7 linked regions of the Homo sapiens genome follow. The protein of the gene in region 1 purifies or fractionates together with the protein of each later gene. This does not show direct contact. Each region holds a gene or a part of one and is shown in the gene's direction. Other genes may lie near its edges. The genes, in order: NDUFAF5, XRCC2, CTH, ALDH1L1, STARD7, SDHAF4 and BOLA3.

Region 1 (3,870 bases):
AGGGAGACTTGTACTTTTCACTTTTTAAACTTCCTGTAAAATTTGAATTTTCCAAGCAAGAATATTACTTTTGCTTATTTAATGTCAACGGAATTATATGTGGATGGTGGGGTGGAGCTAAGGATTACTCTACTCTGGCTATCCCAAAAAAAGCTCCATTTGTTTAAAAAAATTAAGTAAATCAAACACAGCTAATTGAGGACCCTTATTGTTTAATGTGAGTGATTGTAGTGAAAACACTTATTTTAGTGTGTATAACACTAGTGAAATTATTTTTGTAGTTAAATCTGCTGGAAGTGTGCTATTAAGCTTTTATTGTTTGGAGCCCTCAGGAAACTAATTTTTCTGAATAACCACATTTTCCAAATGATTAAGAGCTCATCCTTTTAAGCAATGAAACTTTTAAAAGGTCTTTATCAAAAATTTTTCATAAATGTTACATTCTTAAATGGTATATGATAAATAATCATCTTTTTTGTTGGTTTATTTTTTTATTTTTTATTTTATTTTATTTTTTGAGACGGAGTCTCGCTCTGTCTCCAGGCTGGAGTACAGTGGCGCAATCTCGGCTCACTGCTGCCTCCGCTTCCTGGGTTCAAGTGATTCTTCCTGCCTCAGCTTCCCAAGTAGCTGGGATTACAGGCGCGTGCCACCACGCTGGCTAATTTTTGTATTTTTAATAGAGATGGGGTTTCACCATGTTGGCCAGGATGGTCTCAATCTCTTGACCTTGTGATCTGCCCACCTTGGCTTCCCAAAGTGCTGAGATTACAGGTGTGAGCCACCAGGCCTGGCCAATAACCATTTCTTGATAACCCCACAGATAATATCATAAACTCAAGTTGTCTGTATTGCTTCTTCCCAGACTGGTCCCAAGAATGCTGTGGTTGGTTTTGTGTCTTTTCCAGCACTTTTCTTACTTGCTGTCAGTTGTCAATCTCAACACCTTGACCAAAATGAACTTTCTTGAGTCATTTCTTCTCTGTTTAGCTATAAGATTAGAATTCATACTGAAAGATTTCTAGGACTTTTGTATTAAGGTAGGAAAGAGGAACTAGGTTCTGGGAGAAAGACTCCTTTGGAATAAAATTCATGAGCTTTATTGGTTCCTTTAACAGATCTTCATTGAGTTTCATGTGCCAGGCATCCAACTAGTCTCTGCTTTTATAGTTGTCAGTCTGACAGGGCTCTAGTATGTGCACACCGTGACACCTGTTGGCTGCCAGGAGACTGTTTGGCTTATTTCCTGGTTCTTAGCAATATTCCAGGTTGGCCTGGAGAATTCCAAAGGTAAATATGAAAATGTATACCTACAAAAGAATTTTTGCTTTATAGGAAGAATTTGTAGGATTTATTGAGATGTAAGCTACCTATATACATCAAGTATGTGATATGATTGTAAAAAGTTACAGAAGTGTGTGAGTCATGAAGTACCTGTGAGGGAAGTTTATATATTTTTTCAAACTCTTTTAGTACCATTTTCATCCACTAGGTGGAAGCAATTACAGTATGACCTGCATTAAAGACATGTACAGTTTTTTGGCCGGCTGCAGTGGCTCACACCTGTGATCTCAACACTTTGGGAAGCTGAGACGGGAGGATTGCTTGAGCCCAGGAGTTTGAGACCAGCTTGGGCAACGTGATGAAACCCTGTCTCTACAAATAAAAAAAAAATTAGCCAGGCATGGTGGCACAAGCCTGTGGTCCCAGCTACTCAGAAGGCTGAGGTGGGAGTATTGATCGAGCCCAGGAGGTCAAGGCTGCAGCAAGCTGTCGCACCACTGCACTCTAGCCTGGGCAACAGCAAGACCCTCGTCTCAAAAAAGAAAAAAAAAAAGTACAATTTTTGTATTGATTATGTATTCCTTAAGTAGGAGTGGAATAAAAGTATTTTACCGTGGATTGGCTTCTGTGAAGGAAAGAAGTGAATATTAGTAGATATTTGGAAAAAAGAAAGATAGTTGATGCAGTGATTATTATTCTGTTCCTTTGTAAGTTACCATTAGCCTCTCTTGCTTAAGAAATATTTTGAGCTTTTTTGGGGAGGGGTTGTGGTTAATGATGTGAAATTAATCTTCAGGAAATTTATCATAAGCAGACTTGCCTTTTCAGATATTGGTATATTTTAATTCTCTACCTGAATACATACATGACAGTTATTTTACCATGCTGGTTTAAAAAACATCAATTTGAAAATACTAGAAGGTGGGGTGAACACTGATAAGTTACTGTTAACAAATAAGAAAATAATGCTTTGCCATCTGTGGTGGTTTTAAAATCTATCCACAAATTTTTGATATGCTTCTCTTTAAGACGGGACACTTCATTCCCCTCTAAGTACAGGCTGAGTTTAGTGATTCCCTTCCAACAAATAGATGGTGTGTCACTTCTGAGACTAGGTAATAAAAGGCATTGCATCCTCCTTACTCTCTCTTGGATCCTTCACTCTAGGGAAAGCCAGCAGCCATATTGTAAGGCCACTCAACTCCATGGAGAAGACCTAGAAGTGAGGAGCAGAGGCCTCCAGCCAAAAGCCATGTGAGGGAGCCATCTTGGAAGCAATTCTCCAGGCCCAAACTTCAGATGACTGTGGTCCCAGCCAATGCATTGACCACAACCTCATGAGAGACCCTGAGCTAGAACCACCTAGCTAAGCCACTCTCAAATATCTTATCTACAGAAACTGAGATGATAAATGTTTGTGGTTTAAGCAACTGTGTTTTAGAGTAATTTGTTACACAGCAATAGATAACTGATACGCGATACACTGTCTTCAGGAGGTGTATTAGGGTGGGCAAGGTATTCTGAGTTGTTATTTTCAGCATAAAACATAGCCCCCTTATTTACAATTAGGTAAAGTTAACATAAACTGTATTACTTTTGTTCTCAGAGAACACCAGACCTGAAATGCTCTTGCCTGGAGGTTTGATTCCATGATATCTTGAAATGGAACTAACTTCCCACATTAAGTTTAGTAGGCCTCAAATTTTCTTTCCTGGGAATATTAGGATAAATTTTTTGGAAGCCTCGATGGGCTAATTTCCAAATGAAATCAGAGAATTTGGGAAGACCATGAGAATTCAGTGAGCTACATAACTGCACACAGATTCTTCAGCCAGTTCCCTTCTGCCGTAGCTGTTGAGTTGCGACAGCTCATTAGGATGGACTGTTGACACTGCATACTTGTTACCAGGCTCACAAATGAGTACAAGGATGTGGAAATAACAAGGACTCTTTAAAGCCAGACTTGATCGTACATTGTTAGTCACTGCTAAAACCAGGCAAAAGTAAATTGCCTGCACTTTGAAAGTGGCCATTGTAACCCGGCCAGTGTCTAGACTCTTCATTCAGGAATCACACGTTTGGCCAGGATGCCCGTTGCTAGTTCTGTCAGAACAGGTCTGGTGGTAGAATATCAGGAACACTTACCAGGTGTACTGTTTTTGTGCTCAGAGTGTTTGTGCTCAGATTGTGAGTGGGAGATTGGGAAGAGGAGAATTCCAAAGAAAGACTTGCCAGTCTGCCATAAAAAACTATGGAAGTCAAAGAAAGGTCGGGGACTGGGAGTCAGGTGGTCTGGGTTTAGTGCTGGTCCTGTTTGTTCCTAATGCTGGGGCAGACTCCATCTCTCTGACCTCAATATCTTCATCTGTAAAATTACAGGTTTGCTAATTGGTGAGTCTCAAAGGAGGCTACCAGCCTGCCTTTCACGTTCCTGAAGGGCTTTTTCAAACACTTCCACCTTTCTCTCCTTGGTTGAGAGTCACAGCCAGAGGGAGCTCATGTTAGAGGTGGGAAATGGTTGCGAGCCATTGGACAGGATGATCTCAGAGGAGCTTTTCAGCCTGACCCCAGAACCTGGGTCCCAAG
Region 2 (4,343 bases), on another chromosome or scaffold:
AAGCATCCTTTCACCTCGGCCTCCCGAAGTGCTGGGATTACAGGCATGAGCCACGATGCCTGGCCTCCCCATCAGTTTTGTTGAAAACAGCAACTGTGTTGGCTACATCTTTATATCCCTAGCACTTACCTCAGTTCCTGGAACATACTTGACTTGCATGAAATGTTCACCGGTAAGTGGCCAGGCATGGTGGCTCATGCCTCTAATCCCAGCACTTTGGGAGGTCGGTGCAGGCAGATCACTTGAGGTCAGGAGTTTGAGACCAGCCTGGCCAACATGGTGAAACTCCGTCTCTACTAAAAATAGAAAAAATAGCCGGGTTTGGTGGTGGGCGCCTGTAATCCCAGCTACTCAGGAGGCTGAGGCAGGAGAATCGCTTGAACCCAGGGGCTTGCAGTGAGCCGAGATTGTGCCTCTGCACTCCAGCCTGGGCGACAGAGTGAGACTCTGTAAAATGTTTACCATTAAATGTCTGTATAATTGAGCATTATCTCTTTTGCAGACTAAATGCTTGCTCCAGCAATGCTGCTGCTGCTGAAGACATTTGGGACACCTTGTTAGTGTTCAAGTTTCAACTAAAGGAATGGTTGAAAGAAGTCAGATAATCGCCCAGACAGGACCTCAGATGGCTTTCCTCCTGTTTTTTAATTTTTAACTTTTATTTTTCTGTAGAGGTGGGATCTCACTATGTTGCCCAGGCTAGTCTTGAACTCTTGGCCTCAAGTACTCCTGCCTCAGCCTCTCAAAGTGCTTGGATGACAGGTGTGAACCACTGCACCTGGCCTGATTTTCAGTTTAATAGGTCCAAAAACTCAGTTTAGTCCTTGTACTCATATTTGATTAGTCTCAGTGATACTGAGGTTGTATAGCATAGTAGAAAAATTCCAGGCTTTGAGAATCACAGAGATCTTGATTAAATCCTGGCCCTGACATTTACTAGTTTTCTCATGTGAAAAATACAATAGTAACAAATAGGGTTGATGTAACAATTAAAGGACATAATATAAAGAATGTACTGCTGATCCCACAGTAAGCTCAAATAACTATTATTAGATAGCTATTGTTACGATAATAGAACTTAGCAGATGCTGATTTACAATCCAAGTATCAAATCTATTGACTCACAATATTAGTGAAACTGTCAAATAGATTAAAATTATTATGTCCACTGTGTATTCTTTTCTAGTTAGGAAATTTTGCCTCGGAAAGGTTGCTTAGAGAATTAAGAGAAACAGTTTGTCATAATGGCTATCATCACCAAGCTCTGATGCCTGATGTATTAGTCTTCCCTAAGAGGATTAAACTGTCATGTCAAGCAGAATTTACTTGGGTTCCCTTTACCCTGGACACTTAACAAACTCTTCTTTCGCTTCTGAAACTGCAGGTTGACCATACCTTGCTTCTATTGACTCTTTCCTTGAATCTGGACATCATTAATTTTAATTTTCTGTAATAGGCCTATGTCAGATTTTTGGAGTACCTCTTTTCTTATCCATGGAGGATATGTTCCAAGACCCCCAATGGATGCTGAAACCACAGATAGTAGTGAACCCTATATACACTATGTTTTTTCCCATACAGTAATGAACAGGTAGTGTGTACAGCATGGATATGCTGGACAAAGGGATGATTCATGTCCCACGTGGGACAGAACAGGATGGTACGATATTTTATTATGCAACTCAGAATGACATGCAATTATTGAAAACTTGTGTATTTATTTCTAGAAGTTTCTGTTTAATAGTTCCGAACTGTGGTTGGCTATAACTGAAACCACAGAAAATGAAACTGCAGATAAGGGGGGACCAGTGTATTTTCTGCCTATGTTTAGAAGTTTCTTTTTTTTTTTTTTTGAGATGGAGTCTCGTTCTGTCTCCTAGGCTAGAGTGCAGTGGTGTGATCTCGGCTCACTGCAACCTCCACCTTCTGGGTTCAAGTGATTCTCCTGCCTCAGCCTCCCGAGTAGCTAGGATTACAGGCGCCCACCACCATGCCTAGCTAATTTTTTGTATTTTTCATAGAGATGGGGGTTTCACCATGTCAGCCAGGCTGGTCTGGAACTCCTGACCTCAGGTGATCCACCTGCCTCAGACTCCCAAAGTGCTGGGATTATGGGTGTGAGCAACAATTACAATTGTTAATTGTAATATTAACAATTTGCTTGGCTTGTGAATTGTTAATATTATCCATTACTTGTAAATTTAAATCTATTTCCTATTTCTGGGAGGTTCTTTCACCCCCTTTATAATTCAGTATACTCTGCTTTGACGTTGTAAAACGTTGCTTTGGATATTCTCAGTGGTGGACAGTTTTTCTCCTTTGAAATTAAATTTGATTTTCTAAGTAACAGTGGAAAGTCTGATGCAGATTGCCTAATCCTTGTGGGTAACTAAGAGGAGTAATACCATCTTCGCCCAAAAGAGTCCCGTCAATAAAATTATAATACTTTTTTTCTTTTTTTTTTTTTTTTTTTTTGAGACGGAGTTTTGCTCTTGTTGCCCAGGCTGGAGTGCAATGGCGTAATCTCGGCTCACCGCAACCTCTGCCTCAGACTCAAGCGATTCTTCCGTCTCAGCCTCCCCAGTAGCTGGGATTACAGGCATGTGCCACCACGCCTGGCTAATTTAGTATTTTTAGTAGAGACAGGGTTTCACCATGTTGGTCAGGCTGGTCTCGAACTCCCAATCTCAGGTGATCTGCCCACCTTGGCACTCCCAAAGTGCTGGGATTACAGGCGTGAGCCACCGCACCTGGCCTATAATACTTTCTTGAGTACTATTTTGCCAGGATTTCTCAGGGGTGAGGATTCTACAGTGTTTTGAGAAATGACAGTAAGAGTAAACAATTGGAGTGTCTTCCCAAGTTAATCTAATGAGGATGTTATTCATTCGTATACATGCCTTTGAAGATATTTTATAGTTGTTTCCACGTGCTCTTTCTTGTCCATGAAAGTCTCTCTGTCTTGCTGGGCGCAGTGGCTCATGCCTGTAATCCCAGCACTTTGGGAGGCTGAGGCGGGTGGATCACCTGAGGTCAGGAGTTTGAGACCAGCCTGACCAACATGGCGAAACCCCATCTCTACTAAAAATACAAAAATTAGCCAGGCATGGTGGCACACGCCTGTAATTCCAGCTACTTAGGAGGCTGAGGCAGAAGAATCGCTTCAACCCAGGAGGTAGAGGTTGCAGTGAGCTGAACTTGTGCCACTGCACTCCAGCCTTGGTGACAAAGCGAGACTCTGTCTCAAAAAAAAAAAAAAATAAAGAATCTGTATTTTTCTTTGAGTTATACTCTTTCAGTCTTGTAGCCCAGTGGTTCTTATAGGTTTTAGTCTTAGGACTATGTAACACATTTAAAAGTGGGAGATTCCACTGGGCATGGTGGCTCATGCTTGTAATCCCAGCACTTTGGGAGGCTAAGGTGGGAGAACTGCTTGAGTCCAGGAGTTCGAGACCAGCCTGGACAACATAGGGAGACCCTGTCTCTGCAAAAAGTAAAAAAATTAGCTGGGTTTGGTGGCACACACCTGTGGTCCCAGCTACTCAGGAGGCTGATATGCAAGGATTGCATGGGCCCAAGAGGTCAAGGCTGCAGAGAGCCATGATGTCATCACTGCACACTCCAGCCTGGGTGACAAAGCAAGACCCTGTCTCAAAAAAAAAATTATTGAAGAATCTAAAGAGCTTTTCTTTATGTTATATGTGTCCATGAAACAAATTTAAAATTTTAAAATATTTACATTCATGTACAGTGACACACACATTGAATATTTTTATAAAACATATTTTTATGAAAAAAGCTGTATTTTTCTAAGAAAAAACTGAGAAAAATGATGTTGTTTTACATATTTGCAAATCTTTTTAATATCTGGCTTAATGGAACTGGGTTCTTATGCAGTCTGTTATCATATGTTGGTTGGGTTAAAGTATATGAAGAACATCCATCCTCTCAGAGAAAGTCACGTTGGGAAAGGGAGGAGTATTTTAAGACCTTTTCACAGAATTATAGATATTCTTCTTGGTTACTGTTACCAAAGCTTGACAAGTAGTAGTTTTCCTAAAGGCTAACTACAATGTGGGATATAAAATCTTAAGACCTTGGCCAGGTGCAGTAGCTCACACCTGTAATTCCAGCACTTTGGGAGGCCAAGGCAGGTGGATCACTTGAGCCCAGGAGTTCGAGACCAGCCTGGGCAACATAGTGAGACCCTGTCTCCTAAAAATAACAAAAAAAATTAGCTGGACATAGTGGCACGAGCCTGTAGTCCAGCTACTTGGGAGGCCGAGGTGGGAGGATCACTTGAGCCTGGGAGGTTGAGTCTCATCGTGCCATTGTACTCCAAC
Region 3 (4,343 bases), on another chromosome or scaffold:
ATTTTTAGTAGAGACGGGGTTTCACCATGTTGGCCAGGCTGGTCTTGAAATCCTGACCTCAGGTGATTCACCTCTGAAAGTGCTGGGATTACAGGCATGAGCCACCGCGCCCGGCCCTTTTTAAAAATCAGCTAAGACCACTAAAGGGAATTTGAAGAGCTGAATGAGAAACGGGAGGTACCTTTCTGTGGCAGAAGCCACGTGAATCCAAACTTTTTTTTTTTTAATCTGCAGGGTACAGCTGCAGGTCATGGTAAGAAGGTGATGGTGGGGAGGGGTAAGGATATCCTGGAGCCCTATAAAATATGTCTGCTCAGGTTGGGCGCGGTGGCTCACGCCTGTAATCCCAGCACTTTCGGAGGCTGAGGCGGGTGGGTCATGAGGTCAGGAGATGAAGACCAACCTCCCCAACGTAGTGAAACCCCATCTCTACTAAAAAAGTACAAAAATTAGCTGTGTGTGGTGGCGTGCCTGTAGTCCCAGCTACTCTGGAAGCTGAGGCAGGAGAATCGCTTGAACCCGGGAGGTGGAGGTTGCGCCACTGCACTCCAGCCTGGCAACAGAGCGAGACTCCCTTTCAAAAAAAAAAAAGTCTGCTCAACTTGTCATAAACAAGGGCACATAGCAACAAAACTTTTAGAAGTTATTGTTGTTAATACTGGGAGCTTCTGAATCAGAAACAAAGGTGAAAGAGTGGTTGTGTTTTGTTATGTTATGTGAAGCAGAGGGAGAAAATTATAGGACTTCTAATTAATGTTCGAATCCTTGGTTCACAATCCGGTTTTGACACTCCCTAGGTACTATTGCATTTGGCTTCACTTTCCTCAAAGCCAGTCATAAGGATTAGTAGAATGACTGGATGAATATAGCTAGCAGGGTGCCATATATGTAAAAGGAGAATAATGCAATTTTTTTTTTTCCCGAGACAGAGTCTCGCTCTGTTGGCCAGCCTGGAGTGCAGTGGCACTATCTCGGCTCACTGCAACCTCCGCATCCTGGGCTCAAGCAATTCTCCTGCCTCAGCCTCCCGAGTAGCTGGGATTATAGGAATGCAAATTTTTAAAAAGTATTGTGTGGAGCTGTTTTGCCAGGAATTGCTCCCTATGCTTTGAGCCACTTTTGTAGAGCCAAGATGTGAATGAATGTTGAGCATTGGTAGGATGTGATCATAACTTCCTGTTGTATGCTAAATAGAACTTGAATCAGCCTGACAGATGGCTCACTCCTGTAATCTCAGCACTTTGGGAGACCAATGTGGGAAGATTGCTTGAGGTCAGGAGTTCAAGACCAGCCTGGGCAACATAGCTAGACTGCCTCTACAAAAAATAAAATTAAAATATTTGTTAGGCATGGTGACATGCACCTGTAGTCTTAGCTACTCAGGAGGCTGAGATCGGAGGATTGCTTAAGCCCAGGAGTTTGAGGCTGCAGTGAGCTATGATTGCCCCACCGTACTCTAGCCTGGGCAACAGAGTGAGGTCCTATCCTTAAAAAAAAAAACTTGTATCACTTAATCATTTATTTCTTAGGAAATGAAATACAGGTTAGAATTAGGTTTATTCTGTTGGCTCATGCAAGTCCCTTTTCCTAATGTTTCCAGATTAATGAAAAAAGGTGAGTCTAACATAATAAACATACTAATAATAAAAACTGTCATTTATTTAGTGATTAGCATGTGCCAGGAAACATGTAGTGAATTTGTGCATTATCTCATTTTATCTTCACAACAATTTTATGAACCAGATATCTGTATTTTATTCCCATTTTACAGATATTGAGATTGACTCTTGGAAATGTGAAGTAACTTACCTAGTGTCATGCAGCTCATAAGTGGCAGATACAGAATTCACATAGAGTTTGTTTGACTTCAGAGCATCTTGACTATAGCCACAGCACTGTTCTGCTTCTGTATTAAAGCAAGACATATCATGACTAAAGAATAGAAACTAATTATGGTAGGGTGAAACTATAGTTCTCTATGTTAGGACTCTGATAATAAACTGAAATCTCTTAGGATGAACTCGAACTTGTTTTTTTCAGGGTTTTGAATATAGCCGTTCTGGAAATCCCACTAGGAATTGCCTTGAAAAAGCAGTGGCAGCACTGGATGGGGCTAAGTACTGTAAGTAATTTCCATTTCACAGTCTAGAATCTATTTTTAAATGTATAGAGAAAACCATAGAGGCACAGAATGTGGAACTGAAAAGAAACAGATTTGCTAGTTCAAAATTCCTGTTCTACTGCCTTTGAATTCTTTGCCCAAGGTCCCTCAGTTGGTATAATATGCATATGTGTAATCATCAGGTAAAAATACGTATGAATAGAGGACAAATGAATAAAGGAAAAAATTCACACGAATACTACATTTATTAATACTACATTTATCATGTAGTATTCATGTGAAAACAATCTTCATCTGAAACTGTCAGTATAAATAAATAAATGGAAATTAAATTTAATAACACCACCTATTAGAATATAAAATCTTTTTTTGAGACAGGGTCTCTCATTCTGTTGCTCAGGCTGGAGTGCAGTGGCACAATCTCTGCTCATTGCAACCTCCTCCTCCAGGATTCAAGCGATTCTCCTGCCTCAGCCTCCTGAGTGGCTGGGATTGCAGGTGTGCACCACCACACCCTGCTAATTTTTTTTTTTTTTTTTTTTTGAGACAGAGTCTTGCTCTTGTCGCTCAGGCTGGAGTGCAATGGCAGGATCTCGGCTCACTGCAACCTCCGCCTCCTGGATTCAAGCAATTCTTCTCCTTCAGCCTCCCAAGTAGCTGGGATTACAGGTGCCTGCCACCACGCCCAGCTAATTTTTTGTATTTTTAGTAGAGATGGGGTTTCACCATGTTGGCCAGGCTGGTCTCGATCTCCTGACCTCGTGATCTCCCGCCTTGGACTCCCAAAGTGCTGGGATTACAGGAGTGGGCCACCACGCCCAGCCTTTTTTTTGTATTTTTAGTAGAGATGGGGCTATTTTGGCCAGGCTGGTCTGGAACTCTTGGGCTCAAGTGATCTGCCCACCTCGGCCTCCCAAAGTGCTGGGATTATAGATGTGAGCCACCACACTTGGCCTAAACTTGCTTATCCTCTGGTTTATTCACCTAATAATTTGTGCCTGAGAATAGCACTAAAGTTATTTTCAGTGGTCAATAACTCCTGATAATGTGCTGTCAGAGATTAGAGATTAACTCCCTAAACTTTTTTTTTTAATGAAGAGAGTCTTGTGTATTCATTGTGATTACACTTATCAGACAAATCTCAGGTCTGATTGCGAGTTTTGTTAAAATATTTACTGAATTGCATATTCATATAATTAACGTATGAATCATATCTTTGCTCTATTCTTTATGTTTGAAATTTCTCTTTTCTTTCTTTTTTTTTTGATATGGAGTCTCCCTCTGTCACCCAAGCTGGAGTGCAGTGGTGCAATCTTGGCTCACTGCAACCTCCACCTCCTGGGTTCAAGCGATTCTCCTGCCTCAGTCTCCCTCGTAGCTGGGATTACAGGCATGTGCCACCATGCCTGGCTAATTTTTGTATTTTTAGTAAACACAGAGTTTCACCCTGTTGGCCAGGCTGGTCACGAAATCTTGACCTCAAATGATCCACCTGCCTTGGGCTCCCAAAGTGCTGGGATTATAGGCATTAGCCACCACGCCTGCCCTGAAATTCCTTTAGTTTGCTATTTTTAAACTGTAGTTTAACTGGCAATAGGCCTTTTATCTCAGATATTTGTAAAGAATTATTTTCTTGAAGTGTTTCAGAGAAATATTATTACCAAGGCAAAATTGACTTAACACAAAAGTATCTGTCCACATTATATATTTTTTATTTTAAAGATATCTTATTCTTGAAATAGAAAAGGAGATTTTGTAATGGTATTAATCAGGGGCCTCTAGCAACTCAGCAGTGATGGCTTCCTATCTGCATTAAAGTAAGTCAGGTAAATACTTGGAGGTGTGTTGTAACCTATAGGCCTGACTTTTCAGCTTACTCTAACTTGATTTTTATTTTAGGTTTGGCCTTTGCTTCAGGTTTAGCAGCCACTGTAACTATTACCCATCTTTTAAAAGCAGGAGACCAAATTATTTGTATGGATGATGTGTATGGAGGTAGGTGACCCCTCTCATTTATATTCTGTAAACTTGTATTTTACAGATAATAAAGTGAGCCCTGAATTAATATTAACAATGTTGCCAGTATTTTTGATTATTTATTATAGTTTACAGGTGTGACAGGTACCTCTATGCTCTCTCAGACTTGGGAAAAGAGGAGCATAAACACTTAGGGTCCATGTTCTGGAACTGCTTATAAGAGAGATTATTTATTTATTTATTT
Region 4 (4,343 bases), on another chromosome or scaffold:
AAATTTTTTCTTGAGAGTTATTCTTTGATTTGTTTACATGTTGTTTAGAAGTGTGTCATTTAGTTTCCATTTTTTTAATGTTTTTCAGATATCTTTCTGTTATTGATTTCTAGTGATTCTGTTGTGATCTCAGTAATCTCCATCATAGAAGTCATTGATATTTGTTGTTGTATGTTTTATGGCACAGAATGTGGTCTGTCTTGATGAATATTCCATGTGAACTTGAGAAGAATGTGTATTCTGTTGTTGTTGGGTGAAGTATTCTCTAAATGCCAATTAGATACACTTAATTGATGGTGCTGTTCAACTATGTCCTTACTGATTTCCAGCCTGCTGGATCTATCAGTTAGTGGGTACTGGCCAGGCACGGTGGCTTACGCCTGTAATACCAGCACTTTGGGAGGCCGAGGTGGGCAGATCACCTGAGGTCAGGAGTGCGAGACCAGCCTGACCAACATGGAGGCTCTACTAAAAATACAAAATTAGCCGGACGTGGTGGTGCATGCCTGTAATCCTAGCTACTCGGGCGGCTGAGGCAGGGGAATTGCTTGAACCCGGGAGGCGGAGGTTGCAGTGAGCCGAGATCGTGCCACTGCACTCCAGCCTGGGCAACAAGAGTGAAACTCCGCCCCCCCAAAAAAAACGTTAGTGGGGACTGACAGAGAGGTGTTGATGTCTCCAACTGTAATAATAGTGGATTCATCTATTTCTCCTTAAAATTCTGTCAGTTTTTGCTTTACACATTTTAGCACTGTTGTTAGGCACATACATATTAAGGAGTATTATGTCTGCTGGGATAATTGACTCCTTTACCATTATGTAGTGCTTCTCTTTATTCCTAATAATTTTCCTTTCTCTGAAGTCTGCTTTATCTGAAGTTAATAGAACTACTCCATATTTCTTTTGATTAGTGGTAGCACGGTATATCTTTCTCCATCCCTTTATTTGTAACCTATCTGGTTTTTATGTTGAAATGGGTTTGTTGTAGACAACATATAGTTAGGTCACGATTCTTTATTCACTCTAGATAGTCACATGTTTTAATTGGTATATTTACACCATTGATATTTGAAGTGATTTTTTGATATAGTTGGATTAATATTTACCATATTTATTACTGTTTTCTATTTGCCCTTTGTTTCTTTTTTCTTCCACACTTTTTTCTGCCTTTTCTGATCTTAACTGAGCATTTTATATGATTCCATTTTCTTTTCTCTCTTAGCATATCAGTTTTACTTTTTTGTTGTTGCTTTTTTAGTGGTTGACCTACAGTTTGCAATATACACTTAAATCTAATTTAAGTCTGCTTTTGAATAACACTATACAACTTTATGGGTAGTGTAAGGGCCTTATTGCAGAGTATTCTTGATTCCTCCCTCCCATGCCTTATTATTACTGCTATCATTCATTTCACTTATCCATAAGCTACAATCACTGAATACATTGTTGCAATTATTATTTTGAACAAATTGTTATCTCTCAGATTAAGAATAAGAAAAAAAATTATTTCACATTTATTTCTAATACTCTTTTGTATGTTGAGTTTCTGACTTGTTTAATTTTCCTTTTTTTCTGAATTACTTCTTTTAACATATCTTGTAAGGCAGTTTACTGGTGACAAATTCCTTCAATTTTTGTTTGAGAAGTCTTTCTCCTCCACTTTTGAAGGACAATTTTACTGCATACAGATGGAATCTAGTTAGTTCTAAGTTGATGGAATGTTTTCAGTTCTTTAAATAATTCTTTCTATTCTATTCCTGATTGCATGGTTTATGAAGAGACGTTTGATGTAATCCTCATCTCTCTCCCTCTATAGGTAAGGTGTCCTGCCCTGCCTCTCCCTGGCTTCACTGAAGATTATCTCTGTGTCTTTTATTTTTTGCAGTTTGAATATGATATGCCTAAGTATAGATTTTTTGGGGGGTGGGGGGTGATCTTTATCCTATTTGGTTTCCTCTGAGCTGCTTGGATCTTGGTTTGGTATCTGTCTTTAATTTTGGAAAATTATCAGTCATTATCACTTCAAACATTTTTACTATTCCTTTCTTTCTTTTTATTCCATCTGATATCCCTATTACAAGGATTTACACCTATGGCAATTGTCCCACCATTCTTGGATATTCTGTTTTGTCTTTTTTATTCTATATTTCCCTTTGCATTTCAGTTTGGGAAGTGTTTGTTGATATTTCATCCATCTCATTGATTATTTCCTCAACTGTATCCAGTCTATTGATAAACCTATTAAAGACATTCTTTGCATTTATCACAGGGTTTTTATTTCTAGACTTTTTTTGATTTTTTTCTTAATTTCCATCTCTCTGCTTACATGACCAATTTGTTCTTATATGTTCTCCACATTTTTCCATTAGAGCTCTTAGCATTTTAATTATCATTGTTTTAAATTTTCCATCTGAAAATTCCAACATTGCTTCCATATCTGATTGTGGTTTAGGTGCTTGTTTCATCTTTGCAAACTGTGTTTTTGTCTTTTATATATCTTGTAATTGTTTTGCAGAAAATCAGATATAATGTATTGGGTAAAAGGTACTGAGGTAGATAGGCTTTTAGTGTGAGGTTTGATATTTACCTGTCTAGGAGTTAGAATGTGTTTACTATTTGCTATAGCTGTGGGTATCAGAGGATATAATTTTCTCTCTTCATCTTCTTGTTTTTGTCTACCCTGTTGTCTTTGGGTTTTTGTAGAAACTCCTTAAATAGGCTCTGGCTTGCAGTTCTCTTATCCGTAATCCCCTTGTTACTATACTGGAGCCCTGTGGATGTAGTAGCAAGGTGTTTTGGTGGGGGGAAGTGTTTTACAGTCCTACAATTAGGTCTTAGTGTTTCAGTGAGCCTGCACCCCTGGGCTGTGACCTTCACAAGTGTTTCTCAGTCCTACCCCTTTTAGGTGATGAGAAAGGCTAGAGGGGCTGGATTTGGGTTTTTCCTCATCACTTAGGTTAGTTAGGCCCTGGGTGTCCATTCACTTAGGCTCTGGTATAATAGTTTCTATGAGGGTAGATATGTTGAGAAAAAAATGACTGCTTTCCTTGCCTCCTGCCAAAACCAGAAGGGGATTTTTCTCCAATCCTTACTGTGAGAACTGTAAGAATTAAAGAAAGAGGAAAGAAATACAAAAGCTGGCTTGCCAGTTAAGACATTTATTTTAGAGAAAATCAACCTGAAAGGAGCCTTCTGGCCAAGTTAGGTCAGAGGCACACTCTCTTACAGACTGAGTTTTTAAGGATTCAGGATGGGAGAGTTTATCAGAGGCTTGGACTGCTTCTGTGTCTCTTTGTTGTGCTTATCTGGGAGGGAGAGTTGTGTGCCTGTTTTCATACATTTTTCCTGCAGCTGCAGGTATAGTCCCTGAGTCTGTTTTTACTTATTTATTGAGACAGAGTCTCGCTCTGTCGCTAGGCCGGAGTGCAGTGGCGCCATCTCGGCTCACTGCAACCTCTGCTTCCCAGGTTCAAGCGATTTTCCTGCCTCAGCCTCCTGAGTAGATGGGACTACAGGCATGCGCCACCACGCCTGGCTAATTTTTTGTAGTTTTAGTAGAGACGGGGTTTCACCGTGTTAGCCAGGATGGTCTTGATCTCCTTACCTCGTGATCCGCCCGCCTCGGCCTCCCAAAGTGCTGGGATTACAGGCATGAGCCACCGCGCCCAGCCAAGAGTCTGCTTTTAGCTTTCCTGTCTTAGTGCCCCTGAAGGAAAGGGAATGTGCTTGTTCCTTATTATTAAGGCCCACTGTTTTACTGGGGCCCATCGTATGAGGGTGAAGTTTGGCAGTTACCCAAGATACTTTCCCCCCACCTCCCTTTGTGTCCCAGCTGTCTTATCCGTGTTTTACTGTCTGCTCTTTCTGGCTGCTTGTAGTTAGAAGAGAAGTGATTTCCTTGAAATGCATGAGGCTAGAAAGGGAGCTGGAATTTAAAGTGGCGGTGTTTGTCTGAGATGACAGTACTCCTGCTCTATCATTCCAGACCCTATGGTTATAAAAGGACAAGAGGGGACATGTTCTTTCTAGCTACTTCCTGCTGATGCGGGGGTGGAGAGTTTTTTGGTCTTAGATTGACTGTAGGATCAACACCATTTGTAGATGTTTTTGGGTAGTTGCGAAATGGCCATGATTCTGTCGGTTAAAAATTTTTGATAAAGGTTAATTAGGCAGAGTAAAAACATTAGTCCTAGGCTTTTCAGCAGCATTTTTTATTAGGCCCGACTGGTTGAGACAGAAGTAACTTTTTTTTTTTTTTTTTTTAATGACAGGCAGAGGTGCATGTTTGGAAAGACCCATGTGTTATTTTTTGTTAGTAACTGTTATTCCTGCTATGAGGATAA
Region 5 (4,343 bases), on another chromosome or scaffold:
AAATCTAGCTATGGTTTTGCTTTTGCTCTTCTTCTGCAACATCTAAATGCCTATCCTAAGGTTCCTTCTCTGTTTCTCTATGGTTTTGCAGCTGGTCAGGGTTCTTGGTTGTAACAAAGAAACTGGTCTTGGTTAATTTAAGCCAAAAAGGAATTAATCAAAACGGTATTAGGTCACTCAGTATTGACAAGGCCAGGGTACAGGTTGACCAAGACCTGCAGCAGGAATAATCTACTTAGAGCAGTGTTGCTGGCATTCTTTCCCCCAGATTGGTTGTACTCCTGGACTCCCAGCTCCCTCAAGATCCTGTGCCTTTGTGTTATCTTCAAGATGCAAAGCCCCTTCTAGAAGTCTCTAACCTCACTTAAATTAGGAGCTGTGCTTTAACTGCTTGTGGGCGGGAGGGGGGCTGCATTCACCTATTTGGGTTCTTTCCAAATAGAAAGGGATTTCAGGCAGTCAAAATGACAAATATTCCCCTATATAAATATTTTCATCCAAGTCCAAAGCTTAAAATTCAGCAAATTCAATTTTAGAACTAATAGGACTTCAAGAAATAACGTCCTCACTTTAAAGGTAAAATAAAATAAGATCACACAGCTGGTCAGCTGTAGAGCCAGGACTAGAACACAAATCTTTAGACTTACCATTATTTTGAATTGCTCTAAACTTTTAATCTTGGATTGACACTATACCTTTGAATTTTTGGCTTTTGCAGCAATATATTAATGCAATATATATATATTTTTGAGACAGTTTCACTCTCACCCAGGCTGGAGTGCAGTGGCACGATCTCAACTCACTGCAACCTCCATCTCCTGGGTTCAACAGATTCTTGTGCCTCAGCCTGCTGAGTAGCTGGGATTACAGGCGCAGGCCACCATGCCTGGCTAATTTTTTTTTGTAGTGCTGGGATTACAGGTGTGAGCCGTTGCACCTGGCCAATTTTTTTTTTTTTTTAAGAGTCTTACTCTGTTGCCAGGCTGGAGTGCAGTGGCATGATTTTGGCTCGCTACAGTCCCGACCTCCAGGGCTCAGGTGATTCTCCCACCTCTGCCTCCTCAGTAGCTGGGACTACAGCTGCATGCCACTACGCCCAGCTATTTGTTGTGTAATTTTTTTTTTTTTTTTTTAGAGGTGGAGTTTTGCATGTTGCCCAGGCTGGTCTTGAAGTCCTGGGCTCAAGTGATCTGCTCACCTTAGCCTCCCAAAATGCTGAGGATTATAGGCGTGAACCACTGCCCCAGGCCTTAATGCAATCTTTTAATAAAAATTTGGATTACTGAGGCCTATTTTCATTTTATTATTTCTTGATTTACTAAATTTATTCATGTAATGTATGTAATGTTTACCAGGACATGTAATGTTTACCAGGACATGCTAGGAGCTGGAACTACAAATATGAAAAAGACTGATTCTGGGCTATTAAGGAATTTATAGTTTAGTAAGGAAAGCAGATATAAAGATAGATTAATTATAGTGTAATATGCCTGTGTAAAGGAATAAAAATCAGTGTGTATGGTTAACTCTGCCTAGCAGTTACCTTTGTGGTTTTTTGAAGCTTGAAGGGTGAAAAGGCATTTCAGACAGTGTAGCAGTAATTTGGGTCTTCTTCAGTCTTGAATTGCAATAGAGTGTATAAGACAGCCAGCCAGCAATTTTTGTTTCTTATCTGTAACCTTTCTTTAAATGTTGCAGGGGGTAGGGTGAGGTGGAGGGCACGGAGAAGCTGGGTATGGTAGCACACGCCTATTGTGCCAGCTACTTGGGAGGCTGAAGTGAAAGGATCTCTTAAGCCCAGGAATTTGAGGCCAGTTTCGGCGACATAGTGAGACTTTGTCTCAAAAAAGAAGAGGTTATGGGAAAAATACAAGCCAAGTTTTAAAAAATTATTATTATAAAATGTTTCAGATATATAAAAAAGGTTTAAATAATAACACGAGCGTTGCAAGTACAGCTATGTTAAGAAATAAGATATTACAAGTATACTTAGGGTTCCTCTGTACCTTTTTCCAGTTGTATTCTTATTTTTCCCCAAGATGTCACCATTATCCCAATTTGTTGTATATAATTCCCTATGTTTTTATACATATGTATATACCCCTGAATGATACATAGTGATACATAGTACAATATATGGTGGTGTTTTTCATGTTTTAAAACTTTTTGCAGCCGGTGAGTCCCGCCTGGAATCCCAGCACTTTGGGAGGCCCAGGCTAGTGGATCACTTGAGGCCAGGAGTTCAACACCAGCCTGGGCAACATGGTGCAACCCCATCTCTACTAAAAATACAGAAAACAAATTAGCTGCATGTGGTGGTGCTTGTCTGTAGTCCCAGCTACTTGGGAAGCTGAAGTGGGAGAATCACCTGAGCTTGGGGAGTTAAGGCTGTAGTGAGCTGTGATTATGCCACTGCACTCTAGCCTGGGCTCAGAACAAACAAAAAAAAACCACACAACTTTTCGCAGTCCTGAACAAAATACTAACAAACTGAACTCAGCAATATATGAAATGGATTATATGCCATGAAAAGTAGGATTTATTTAAGGAACGGCAAGGTCGGTTCTTCATACAAAAATCAATTTATTACACCATATTAATAGAAAAAAGGACAAAAACTGCGTGATCATCTGAATAAACACAAAAAGTATTTGACAAATTCCAGCCTCCTTTTGTGATTAAAAAAGAAAACACTCAGCAGACTGGGAATAGAAGGAAATTTCTTGCAGCTGATAAAAGGCATCTACAAAAAACATAGCTAACAGTGTAGTTAATGGCAAAAGACTTAGTGCTTTTCTCCTAAGATCAGGAACAAGATGAGGATTCTGCTCTCACCATTTCTGTTCAACATTGTACTGGAGGTCATAACCAATGAAATCAGGCAACATAAGGAAATGAAAGTCATTTAGATTGGAAAGAAGAAATAAAACTATCTCTATTTGCAGCTGACATGATCTTATATTTAGAAAATAGTAAGGAATCTACAGAAAGCAATTAGAGCTGATAAATGAGTTCATCAAGTTTGCAGGATACAAGATCAATACACGGAAGTCATGTTTATGTACACTAACAATGAATCTGAAAATAAAATTAACAATTTCATTTACAGTAGCATAAAAGGAATAAATACATACGAATAAATTAACAAGTGTACAACTAAAACTGTAACACTAAAAACAACAAAACATCATTGGAAGAAATTTAAAAAGACATAAGTGAAAGACATCCCGTGTTCATGGATTAGATTAGAACACTTAATATTGCTAAGATGGCAATACCACTTAAAGTGATCTACAAATTCAGTGTAGTCTTTATCAAAATCCTAGGCAGTTCTGCAGAAATTGGCAAGCCACTTCTGATAGTCATATGGAAATGAAAGGAACTCAGAATAGCAAAAACAGTCTTGAAAAAAGAGAACAAAGTTTGGAGGACTCACTGTTCCCAATTTCAAAACTTATTACAAAGCTACAGTAATGACATTGTGGTACTGGCATAAGGATAGACATCTAGATTGTTAGAATAAAATTGAGAGTCTAGAAATAAACCTTTACATTTTTGGTCAGTTTTCAACAAGGATGCCAGGATAGTTCACTGGGGAAGGAATAGGCTTTTCGACAAATGACACTGGGTCACCTGGAGAAGCAGATGCAAAAGAATGAGTTTAGACTCCTACCTCATTATCATACACAAACATTAACTTGAAATGGGGTAAAGACCTAATGTAAGCTAAAATTCTAAAACTCTTAGAAGAAAATATAGGCATAAGTTCTTATGACCTTGGATTAGGCAGTGGTTTCTTGGCTATAACACCAAAAACAAGCAATCAAAGAAAAAATAAACATCAAAATTAAAAACTTTTATGCATGAAAGGATACTATCAAGACTAGTATAAGCACATGAAAAGGTTAGGGAAATACCAGTCAAGACGCAATGAGATACCATTTCACACCCACTAAGTTGGCTGGAATAACAAAGATGGACAATAACAAGTGGGGCAATTGGAACCAAGGATGTGGAGCAGTTAGAATCCTCAAACATTGCTGATGTGAATATAAAATAGTGTAATTGTTTGGAAAACATTTTGGCAGTTGCTTAAAAAGTTAAGCATAGTTACCATGATCCATCAAATCTGCTCCTAGGAATCTACCCAAGAGAATTGAAAACATGTCTATATGAAGATTTGTACACAAATGTCCATAGCAGTATTCTTTTTTTTTTTTTTGAGACAGTTTTGTCTTTTCGCCCAGGCTGGAGTGAAGTGGTGCAATCTTGGCTCACTGCAACCTCCACCTCCTGGGTTCAAGCAATTCTCCTGTCTCAGCCTCCCAAGTAGTTGGGATTCC
Region 6 (4,343 bases), on another chromosome or scaffold:
CTATTTCTTTAAACAAGGTAGGGTTATGTAGTGATGACTAGAATATGAGAAAAATATGTGTAATGAAAAAACATTCTAATATGTAATGCTGTCAAAAGCTTACAGATAATTCCATCAAACTAAAAATAAATACTGTTTATCACTATCCTAAAGGCATAAATTGTCCCGTTTACTCAGCAATCTCATGTGACAGGTACTGTAATTTTTCTGTTTACAGGGAAGGAAACAAAAAGGGTAACTTGACCAACATCCAACACCTAGTAAGTGGTTGCATTTGTTTCCTATTGCTGCTGTAACATATTACCACAAATTTGGTGGCTTAACACATTTTACAGGTTTGGAGGTCAGGAGTCTGGAAGGGGTCTCACTGAGCTAGAACCAGGGAGTTAGCAGGGCTGTGTTCCTTCTGGAGGCCACATACATTTCCTTCTCTCTTTTAGCTTCTAGAGGCTGCCCACATTCCTTGGCTTGCCCCCTTCCTCCATCTTCAAAGCCAGCAACATCGGGTCTGGTCTGTCTTCCAACCCTGTCTTCCCTTTCAAAGGACCCTTGTGGTTACATTGACCCACCCCATAATCCTGGATAACCTCCCTATTTTAAGGTCATCTGATTAGCCACCTTAATTCTGTCTGCTACCAAAATTCTTCACCGTGTAACCAAACCTATTCACAGATTCTGGGTATTGGATTCTGATTATCTTTGAGGCCATTATTCTGTTTGCTACAGAGGTGTAGCTAGAACTTGTACTCAAATTGATCTGCTTCTAAAAGCAATTTCTTTAGGAAGCTGGAAACCCCTAACGCTGAGATCACTTTTTTCCCTGTGGTTTTGCCCTTGCTGAATATTATCTCAATGAGGGTTTGGATAACTTTTATAGCATAGAAAGTTCAACTCTTTTTAGAAACTAGAGAGAAAATGATGTCATTTACGCATTGCAGACACCCAGTACATTTTAAAATCCGAAGTTTTATTTTAGATTCAGGGAGTACACGTGCAGGTTTGTTACCTGGGTATATGTGTGATGCTGAGATTTGGGATACGAATAATCCCATCACCCAGGTAATGAGCATAGTACCTAAAAGTTAGTTTTTCAACCCTTGCATCCCCTTCTTCCCTCCCTGACAGTCGTACCCAGTTTGTATTGTTGCCTTCTTTATGTTCTTGAGTATCCAGTGTTTCACTCTATAGAATTAGAAAATTATATGTGAGAATATGCAATATTTGGTTTTCTGTTCCTGCATTAGTTCACTTAGAATAATGGCCTCCAGCTGCATCCATGTTGCAGCAAAGGACATGATTTCATTATTTTTATGGTTGCATAGTATTCCATGGTATATATGTACCACATTTTCTTTATCCAGTCCACCATTGATGAGCACCTAGGTTGATTCCATGTCTTTGCTATTGTGAATAGTGCTGCAGTGAACATGCAAGCGCATGTGTCTTTCTGGTGTGAAAAATGAGTAGTTTTCTTTTGGGTATATACCAGTAACAGGATTGCTGGGTCAAATGATAGTTCTGTTTTAAGTACTTTGAGAAATCTCCAAACTGTTTTCCACAGTGGCTGAACTAAGATACATTCCCACTAGCAGTGTATACGCATTCCCTCTTCTCTACAGCCTCACCAGCATCTGTTGTTTTTTAACTTTTTAATAATAGCCATTCTGACTGATGTGACATGGTCTCTCATTATGAGTTTAATTTGCATTTATCTACCAATTCGTGATGTGGAGCATTTTTTAATATGTTTGTTGGCCGCTTATATGTCTTCTTTTGAGAAGTGTCTCTTCATGTCTGTTGTCCATTTTTTAGTGCGGTTGTTGTTTGCTTGTTGAGTTGTTTAAGTTCCTTATAGATTCTGGATATGAGACTTTTCTCAGATGTGTAGTTTGCAAATATTTTCTCCCATCCTGTAGGTTGTATGTTTACTCTGTTGAGCGTTTCTTTTGCTCTACAAAAGCTTTTTAGTTTAATTAAGTCCCATTTGTCAATTTGTTGTTGTTGTTGTTGTTGCAGTTGCTTTTGAGGACTTAGTCATAAATTATTTCCCAAGACCAATGTCCAGAAGAGTGTTTCCGAGGTTTTCTTCTAGGATTCTTACAGTTTGAGGTCTTACATTTAAATCTTTAATCCATCTCGAGTTAATTTTTGTATGTGGTGACAAATAGGGGTCCAGTTTCATTGTTCTGCACATAGCTGCCAACTATCCCAGCACCATTTATCAAATAGGGACTTCTTTCCCCATAAAACAATCTTTTTTTAGAGACATGGTCTCACTATGTTACCCAGACTAGAATTGAGCTCCTGGGCTCAAGGAATCCTCCCTCTTCAGCCTCCTGCATAACTGAGACTACGGGTGCATGCCACCATGCCCAACTTGATGTATTCTTAAATTAGTTGACAGGAAAAGAGGACCTTGATTAGGATTTAAATGTAGCCACTTCTGACTTTTAGAGATTTGAATACTAAATATTGTCATTGAAAAGTTTGTACTACTAAGTTACTCTTAATATTTGAACTCCTGGTTTTTTGGCATTGCTTCAGATAGGAATTAATGTTTTAATATAAGTTTCTGCAATATTGATAACAATTAACTAATTTATTTCATAGCCCTTCTTTTCAAACTGGTGGTCTTCCAGGAAGGGAAATGGCTGGAGAGGAAGGAAGAATTTTCACTCTGCGTCCTTTTGTACTTTTTGAACTTTGAGAAATGTGAATGTATAAACTAAAAACAAATAAATAAAATTTTATAAATGTTTAAAGTGGAATAAATGAACAGCTCCTATTTTTCTATTATCTCCACTCTTCTAGGATCACCCCTTCTGTGTCATTCTCTGAGGAAAACAAGTTCTTCTCAAGGAGGAAAGTCTGAACTTGTCAAACAGTCCCTTAAGAAGCCGAAGTTACCAGAAGGTCGTTTTGATGCACCAGAGGATTCCCATTTAGAGAAAGAACCACTGGAAAGTAAGTATAATAAAGCACCTCTCAGTTTTTGAAGTATCAAGGAAAGTGTTTTAGTTATTGAGAAAATGAGTGAAAGGAAAGAAATTTGTTATTGCTTAAATTCTGTAGTAATAAAGCATATTTCAACAATGAGTAAAATCACCATATTGACCATCGATACATGTAGATTTCTTAATAAAAAAGATTTTCAAGATTCTGACAGGTATTTGATTGTGTTTGTTTTATTTGTTATACCTCATTATTCACATAACAAAATATATAAGTTGAGACCTTCTTTGTTACAAATAAATGATGTTATTTGTATCAAAGAAGGTTATGTTATTTGTATCAAAGATCTTATGTGAATAATGAGGTATAATAAATATAACCACTTTATATATGTAATGTACACATATTATATATAAAGGACTCCAATAACTCAACGAAAAGTCAAAAATAGCAAAGCACTTGAGTCTTAACTTATATATTTTGCTATATGAATAATGAGGTATGATAAATAAATAACAAATATATGTGTATATTATATGTATGTGTGTGTGTGTGTAGAACTCCAGTAATCTACAAAAAATAAAAATAAAAAATAGCAAAGTATTTGAGTAGACATTTCTCCAGAGAAGGTATACAAATGTACAAATGGCCAACAAACACATGAAAAGATGCTCAGCATCAGCATCATTATCATTAGGGAAATGCAAATCAAAACTATGAGATACTACTTCATACCCACTAGGATGGCTATAATAGAAAAAAATGGAAAATAACAAGTGTTGGGAAGGATGTGGAGAAATTGAAACCCTCAGGCATTTCTGCTGGGAATGTAAAATGTTGCAGCCACTGTGGAAAACAGTATGGCCGTTCCTCAAAAAATCAAACTTAGAACTACCGTTTGACCCAGCAGTTCCACTCTTAGGTGTGTATCTAAAGGAATTGAAAGCAGGGACTTGAACAGATATCTCTGTAACTATGTTCATAGTATTATTAACAGTAGCCAAAAGGTGGAAACAACCCAATGTTCACAAACAAATGAATCATTAAACAAAATGTGGCATATACATCCGGTGGAAAACTATTCAGTCATAAAAAGCAATTAAATTTTAATATATGCTACAACATGGATGGACCTTGAAAACATTATGTTTAGTGAAATAAGCTGGACCCAGAAGGGCAAATATATGATTCCACTTATATAAGGTACCTAGAATAGGCAAATTCATAGAGACAGAAAGTAGAATAGAGGCTATCAGGGACTCCGGGGACTAAGGGAGAAGTCATTGTTTAGTGGGTACAGAGTTCATTGTGGGGATGATGAAAATGTTTTAGGTATAGATAGTGGTGATGGTTGTACAACCTTGTGAATATATTTTTGTTGTTGTTTTTGT
Region 7 (4,343 bases), on another chromosome or scaffold:
TCTCATGCATTGAGTTCAGGTGTCCTAGACTGCTGTTCACGCATTTCCCCCCACCCTTCTCTGCGTGCACCCTCCCAGCCGGCCTCTGCCCGCTGGTCTCTCTCTTTCTCTATCTGGGCCTTTGCCCAGATTGGACCTTCTGCCTGGGTTGCCCTTCCTCCCGTCCTCCACTCAGCTCAAATGCTGCCTCCCCTCCCTCCCCAGCAGGGAATGAATGCCGTTCCCCCACCCTCCCCGGCCCCCTTTTTTGGCTGTCGGTGTTTTCCGTCTTGTGTCCTGAAAACGGACATCTCTGCTGTCTGACCCTGCAACCTGTCAGCCCTTTGTGGACCAGTGCCCTTTGGGATCCATCTTTGTGTTTCTCATGGAACGTAGCCCTTTGCAGTGGATGTGACCCCTACAGCCCTAAGGCATGCTGGTGGTCTGCTGGGTGCTCCATCACTGAGCCCTCCCGGAAACTCTTGCAGTCCCATGTGATCTCTGGGGTCAGAATCAAGGCAGAAGACAAGACAGGGAAGACCTGGCTGGCCAGATGATCCCCAACCCGTGGCACTTTGGGTTTTATTCTCAGATCTGTACAAGCCACCTGGTGTGACTGGACCCATAGGTGCTGGTAATTTGAGTGTGTCCCTTGGCCTGAAACCACAGTTACAAGTGGTTAAGGAAGCAGTTTCTGGAATTGGACTTCCCACTTTCAAATCTGGGCTTTGCTACTTTCTAGCCATGTGACCTTGAGCAAGTTTTTCAACCTCACCCTTTGCCTCAGTTTCCTAATTGAGAGTAACAGTACTTGCTTCAAAGTGTTGCTGTGAGGATTCGTGATAAAGTACACGTTGACCACTGACAACACTGCCCGACACATAGTAAGCCTTCCATAAATGTGACCGCCATCACCATCATTGTCATCTCCAACACTGGAAGGAACCTGCACCAGTCTGGGGTGGGGAAGGGCTGTGATTCCCACAGTTTGGGGGAGTGTCACCTCACGGTCTTGGGATTAAGGTGTCTTCTGGCCCCCTATAGCAACATGTGCCTCTCCTCACACTTCCTGAGTAGACAGCCCAGTCACTTGTCTTTCATTCCCCCTCGAAAGCAGGCTTACTGCAGGACGGGGCTGTGTCCCCCACACCTAACAAAGGACCTGGCACATGGAAGGAGCCCAGTCAGTATTTCTTGAGAGTTTGCAGAGAGTGAGGAGAGTTGGCTTGTGTTTTCTTATTGGCTTACCCATGGAAATTATGTTTTAGTATCTGAAAGGCATTCTGTTTTGGAGAACTCACATCCTGACATTGGGGCACTTTTTAAAAATATATACTTCTTTTTTTTCCCTCCCACAGAGTATCACTCTGTCACCCAGGCTGGAGTGCAGTGGCGCTATCTCGGCTCACTGCAACCTCTGCCTCCTGGGTTCAAGCAATTCTTCTGCCTCAGCCTCCCAAGTAGCTGGGACTACAGGCGCCCGCCACCACACCTGGCTAATTTTAGTATTTTTAGTAGAGATGGGGTTTCACCATGTTGGCCAGGCTGGTCTCGAACTCCTGACTTCAGGTGATCCACCTGCCTCGGCCTCCCAAAGTGCTGGGATTACAGGCATGAGCCACCATGCCCAACCTTAAAAATATACATTTTTATATTTATATAGAGATGGGGTTCCACTATGCTGCCCAGGCTGGTCTTGAACTCCTTGACGATCCTCCTGCCTCGGCCTCCCTAAGTGTTGGGATTACAGGCGTGAGCCACTGTGCCCAGAGCAGCTGCATCCTGAGTTATTCTAGAGGCCTCTCCTCTGCCCCCAGCCAGAACAGCCCTTCTGGCTCAGGACTTGGGGGGGTCATGCAGCTCCACACTGGATGTCTGCAGGCAGCTGACATGAGGGGGTCCCCTGAGCCTGGCCACAGTACATTCTTAGGGGGCTGACACTTGTGTTAAAATATATGGACTTGGTCATAGGCAATTTTAGATGATTTAAGTCTGGAGATGTTGGCTTTGACAGTCGCATGAGAAGAATGAAAATGAAAATCTTCAGGAACAAGTCTGTTGGCCGGCAGGGTCTGAGCCGGGACCTGGAGCTGCCCTGCTCAGGACAGCTGTTGGGAATGGGGTTCTGACAGGCACTGCCCTAGGAGGAGGCAGAGACCTGGAATCAAGGGGAAGGCAAGGTGGTAACTGGACTCCACTCCCAGGGCCAGCTGGTCTCTTCAGGAGTGAGGTGGGGGTGGGGTAGGTGCCCCATCCAGATGCTCTCATGCCCAGGCTGTTTGGGTGGGGGCCTGGTGTCCTGACGGGGTGAAGCTTGCCTCATCTATTTTGCCTACTCACCCTATGCGTAGTAGTGTTCATCCTGGTGCTGTAGAGTCAGAATTTTCTGCCCAAAAGGCCTGAAAAGGTCGCCCAACCCATCCGATACTGGCATCCCTCCTGAGCTTCCCATCAGACTGTCCCTGCGGGATTCCCTGGAGGGGGCGCCCCCTGTCGGCACCCTCAGGAATGGACTCGTTCCTCTGGGACCCTGCTGCGCGGGGCTCAGCCTCTCCCAGGGCCCAGTGCGTCAGCCTTCTCTTGGGAAATACTTACTGGGCATTTGCTGTGGGCCACGCCCTAGGAGGCCTAGATGTTGAGGGTTTTGTACCAGGAGCACCTCCCTACCTGTCCTCCTGCCATCCTGGGGAGGTGTCAGCAAGGGTAGAGTAGGTAGGTAGCCACGGTGATCACTGAGTTGCCTTTTGAGGTGGACAGAGGTGAGATTTGAGCCTCATATTGGCAAATATTGCATGAGGCATTGACCACAGGTGCCCAGCGTCGTGCCTGCCACGTGGAAGGCAGTTGCTAAACAGCTGTTGCCGTCTCCCTGCCTCCGGCCTCTTTCCAGCTTAGGGGATTGCCCTCCCCTAAGGCGCCTCCACCAATGTCTTTCCCCTGCTCAGAGCCTTTACGTGGCTCCCCTGGTTGCCCAGAATCCAGTCCAGTCTTCCTAGCCTGGGATTGCCCATTCTTCATGTGATCTGCCTCAGTCTCCCTGACATGTGCCTACCTCAGTGAATCACGGGAGCTTCCCAGCCTCTCCTCACTTTGCTGTCCTGGGGCAGATGCCCTCTCACTCTTGCCTGCTCCACCTCTGGCTCCAGCTCCAGGGCTGCCTCCTGTGTGTGGCCCTTGTGCGTCCACCCCAGTCACCAGTGCAGTAGCTCACCTCGAACACCGGAAGCAGGGCTGTGCTGGCTTGAGTCTGGCAGTCCTCTGCTGCCCACATTCAGCCCATTTGTGTTGGACTTAATGCTACTTTCTCTTTCATTACTTTCCCACGCCTTTTCCTCTGTGTCCCCAGCACCTACTATAGTGCTGTGGGCATAGCAGGTGCTTAAGAATGGTTATCCAAGCTGCATCTTATTACCCATGGGACTTCGGCCAAGTCACTTCCCCCAGCAGGGCCCCAGTTTCCTTAACTGTAGAGTGACTCAGGTGATCTCTAAGACCCTGTGTGGCTGTAAGGGACTGTAGTGTGTTTTGGGAAGCCCTCAGGGGCTGCACAGAGAGCAGGGAGAAGGCATCAGGGAGGGGGAGTGCGCAGGGCCTGAGTGGGTGAAGCCCAGAAGGTTCCTCTGTCCAGGGTCAGTCACATGAAGGTGTGACTGGGCCCTCACCCAGCCAAGGTGGATGTAAGGAGGAGAGGCTGGTTGTGGTCCAGGCACAGACACAGTCTCTAGGGAGCATTCCACGCCTGCAGAGAGCAAGTGGCCCAGGGACCTTCGCCCAGTGATTATATGAGGCTTTTTCCAGGGACATTTCTGCCTGTCCGCAGAGTTGAGGGCCCTGCACTTGATTGTGGAGCTGGAGGGTGTGCAGTGTAGGCCAAGTGGGGCAGCTCATTGTCCCCCAACACAACAGGAGCTCCCGGATCAGGGCAAGTCAGGAACATGATGGAAACCAGGTATGGCCAGGACCTCAGGATACCTGGGTTCATATCCTGATTCCATTACTCGCTTGTTTGCTGACTTTGGACAAGGAGTAGACTCTATTTTTTTTTTTTAATTAAATAAGGGGATGGGACTAGATTGTGTCTAAGGATCTATAAACCTGACCACATATATTAGGATTCTTTATATTGTAAGAGACAGAGACCAAATTAAAATTAGCATAAGCAAACAAAGGGAATTAATTGGCCCATGTAACAAAATTATCTGGTTTCTGGCATATCTAGATTCCTCTCTCTCTCTGAGCTTTCAGCTTCTTTCCCTGTGTTGGTCTCCTTTTCTCCTGCTAAAGATGGGCTTTCTCTCCTTGGTGGGAAACACAGTCCATGGCCACCTCCAATTAATTTCATAGCATGTTGGCCCAAGAAACAA

What was found.
Region 2: the proteins of NDUFAF5 (region 1) and XRCC2 purify together in Homo sapiens (affinity purification with mass spectrometry; 3 studies listed by BioGRID and IntAct, with this or other methods). This does not show direct contact.
Region 3: the proteins of NDUFAF5 (region 1) and CTH purify together in Homo sapiens (affinity purification with mass spectrometry; one large-scale study listed by BioGRID and IntAct). This does not show direct contact.
Region 4: the proteins of NDUFAF5 (region 1) and ALDH1L1 purify together in Homo sapiens (co-immunoprecipitation; one large-scale study listed by IntAct). This does not show direct contact.
Region 5: the proteins of NDUFAF5 (region 1) and STARD7 purify together in Homo sapiens (affinity purification with mass spectrometry; one large-scale study listed by BioGRID and IntAct). This does not show direct contact.
Region 6: the proteins of NDUFAF5 (region 1) and SDHAF4 purify together in Homo sapiens (co-immunoprecipitation; one large-scale study listed by IntAct). This does not show direct contact.
Region 7: the proteins of NDUFAF5 (region 1) and BOLA3 purify together in Homo sapiens (affinity purification with mass spectrometry; one large-scale study listed by BioGRID and IntAct). This does not show direct contact.

What each region holds. Positions count from the first base shown.
Region 1 is NC_000020.11:13,818,871-13,822,740, forward strand, and holds the end of NDUFAF5 (arginine-hydroxylase NDUFAF5, mitochondrial), read left to right. Parts: 3' UTR 1-2,710; downstream 2,711-3,870. UniProt on the Homo sapiens protein: Arginine hydroxylase that mediates hydroxylation of 'Arg-111' of NDUFS7 and is involved in the assembly of mitochondrial NADH:ubiquinone oxidoreductase complex (complex I, MT-ND1) at early stages. May also have methyltransferase activity.
Region 2 is NC_000007.14:152,665,538-152,669,880, reverse strand, and holds part of XRCC2 (DNA repair protein XRCC2), read left to right. Parts: intron 1-4,343. UniProt on the Homo sapiens protein: Involved in the homologous recombination repair (HRR) pathway of double-stranded DNA, thought to repair chromosomal fragmentation, translocations and deletions. Part of the RAD51 paralog protein complex BCDX2 which acts in the BRCA1-BRCA2-dependent HR pathway.
Region 3 is NC_000001.11:70,413,916-70,418,258, forward strand, and holds part of CTH (cystathionine gamma-lyase), read left to right. Parts: intron 1-2,040; coding exon 2,041-2,122; intron 2,123-4,021; coding exon 4,022-4,117; intron 4,118-4,343. UniProt on the Homo sapiens protein: Catalyzes the last step in the trans-sulfuration pathway from L-methionine to L-cysteine in a pyridoxal-5'-phosphate (PLP)-dependent manner, which consists on cleaving the L,L-cystathionine molecule into L-cysteine, ammonia and 2-oxobutanoate.
Region 4 is NC_000003.12:126,170,345-126,174,687, reverse strand, and holds part of ALDH1L1 (cytosolic 10-formyltetrahydrofolate dehydrogenase), read left to right. Parts: intron 1-4,343. UniProt on the Homo sapiens protein: Cytosolic 10-formyltetrahydrofolate dehydrogenase that catalyzes the NADP(+)-dependent conversion of 10-formyltetrahydrofolate to tetrahydrofolate and carbon dioxide.
Region 5 is NC_000002.12:96,198,200-96,202,542, reverse strand, and holds part of STARD7 (stAR-related lipid transfer protein 7, mitochondrial isoform 1 precursor), read left to right. Parts: intron 1-4,343. UniProt on the Homo sapiens protein: May play a protective role in mucosal tissues by preventing exaggerated allergic responses.
Region 6 is NC_000006.12:70,576,603-70,580,945, forward strand, and holds part of SDHAF4 (succinate dehydrogenase assembly factor 4, mitochondrial precursor), read left to right. Parts: intron 1-2,811; coding exon 2,812-2,964; intron 2,965-4,343. UniProt on the Homo sapiens protein: Plays an essential role in the assembly of succinate dehydrogenase (SDH), an enzyme complex (also referred to as respiratory complex II) that is a component of both the tricarboxylic acid (TCA) cycle and the mitochondrial electron transport chain, and which couples the oxidation of succinate to fumarate with the reduction of ubiquinone (coenzyme Q) to ubiquinol.
Region 7 is NC_000002.12:74,137,271-74,141,613, reverse strand, and holds part of BOLA3 (bolA-like protein 3), read left to right. Parts: intron 1-4,343. UniProt on the Homo sapiens protein: Acts as a mitochondrial iron-sulfur (Fe-S) cluster assembly factor that facilitates (Fe-S) cluster insertion into a subset of mitochondrial proteins. Probably acts together with NFU1.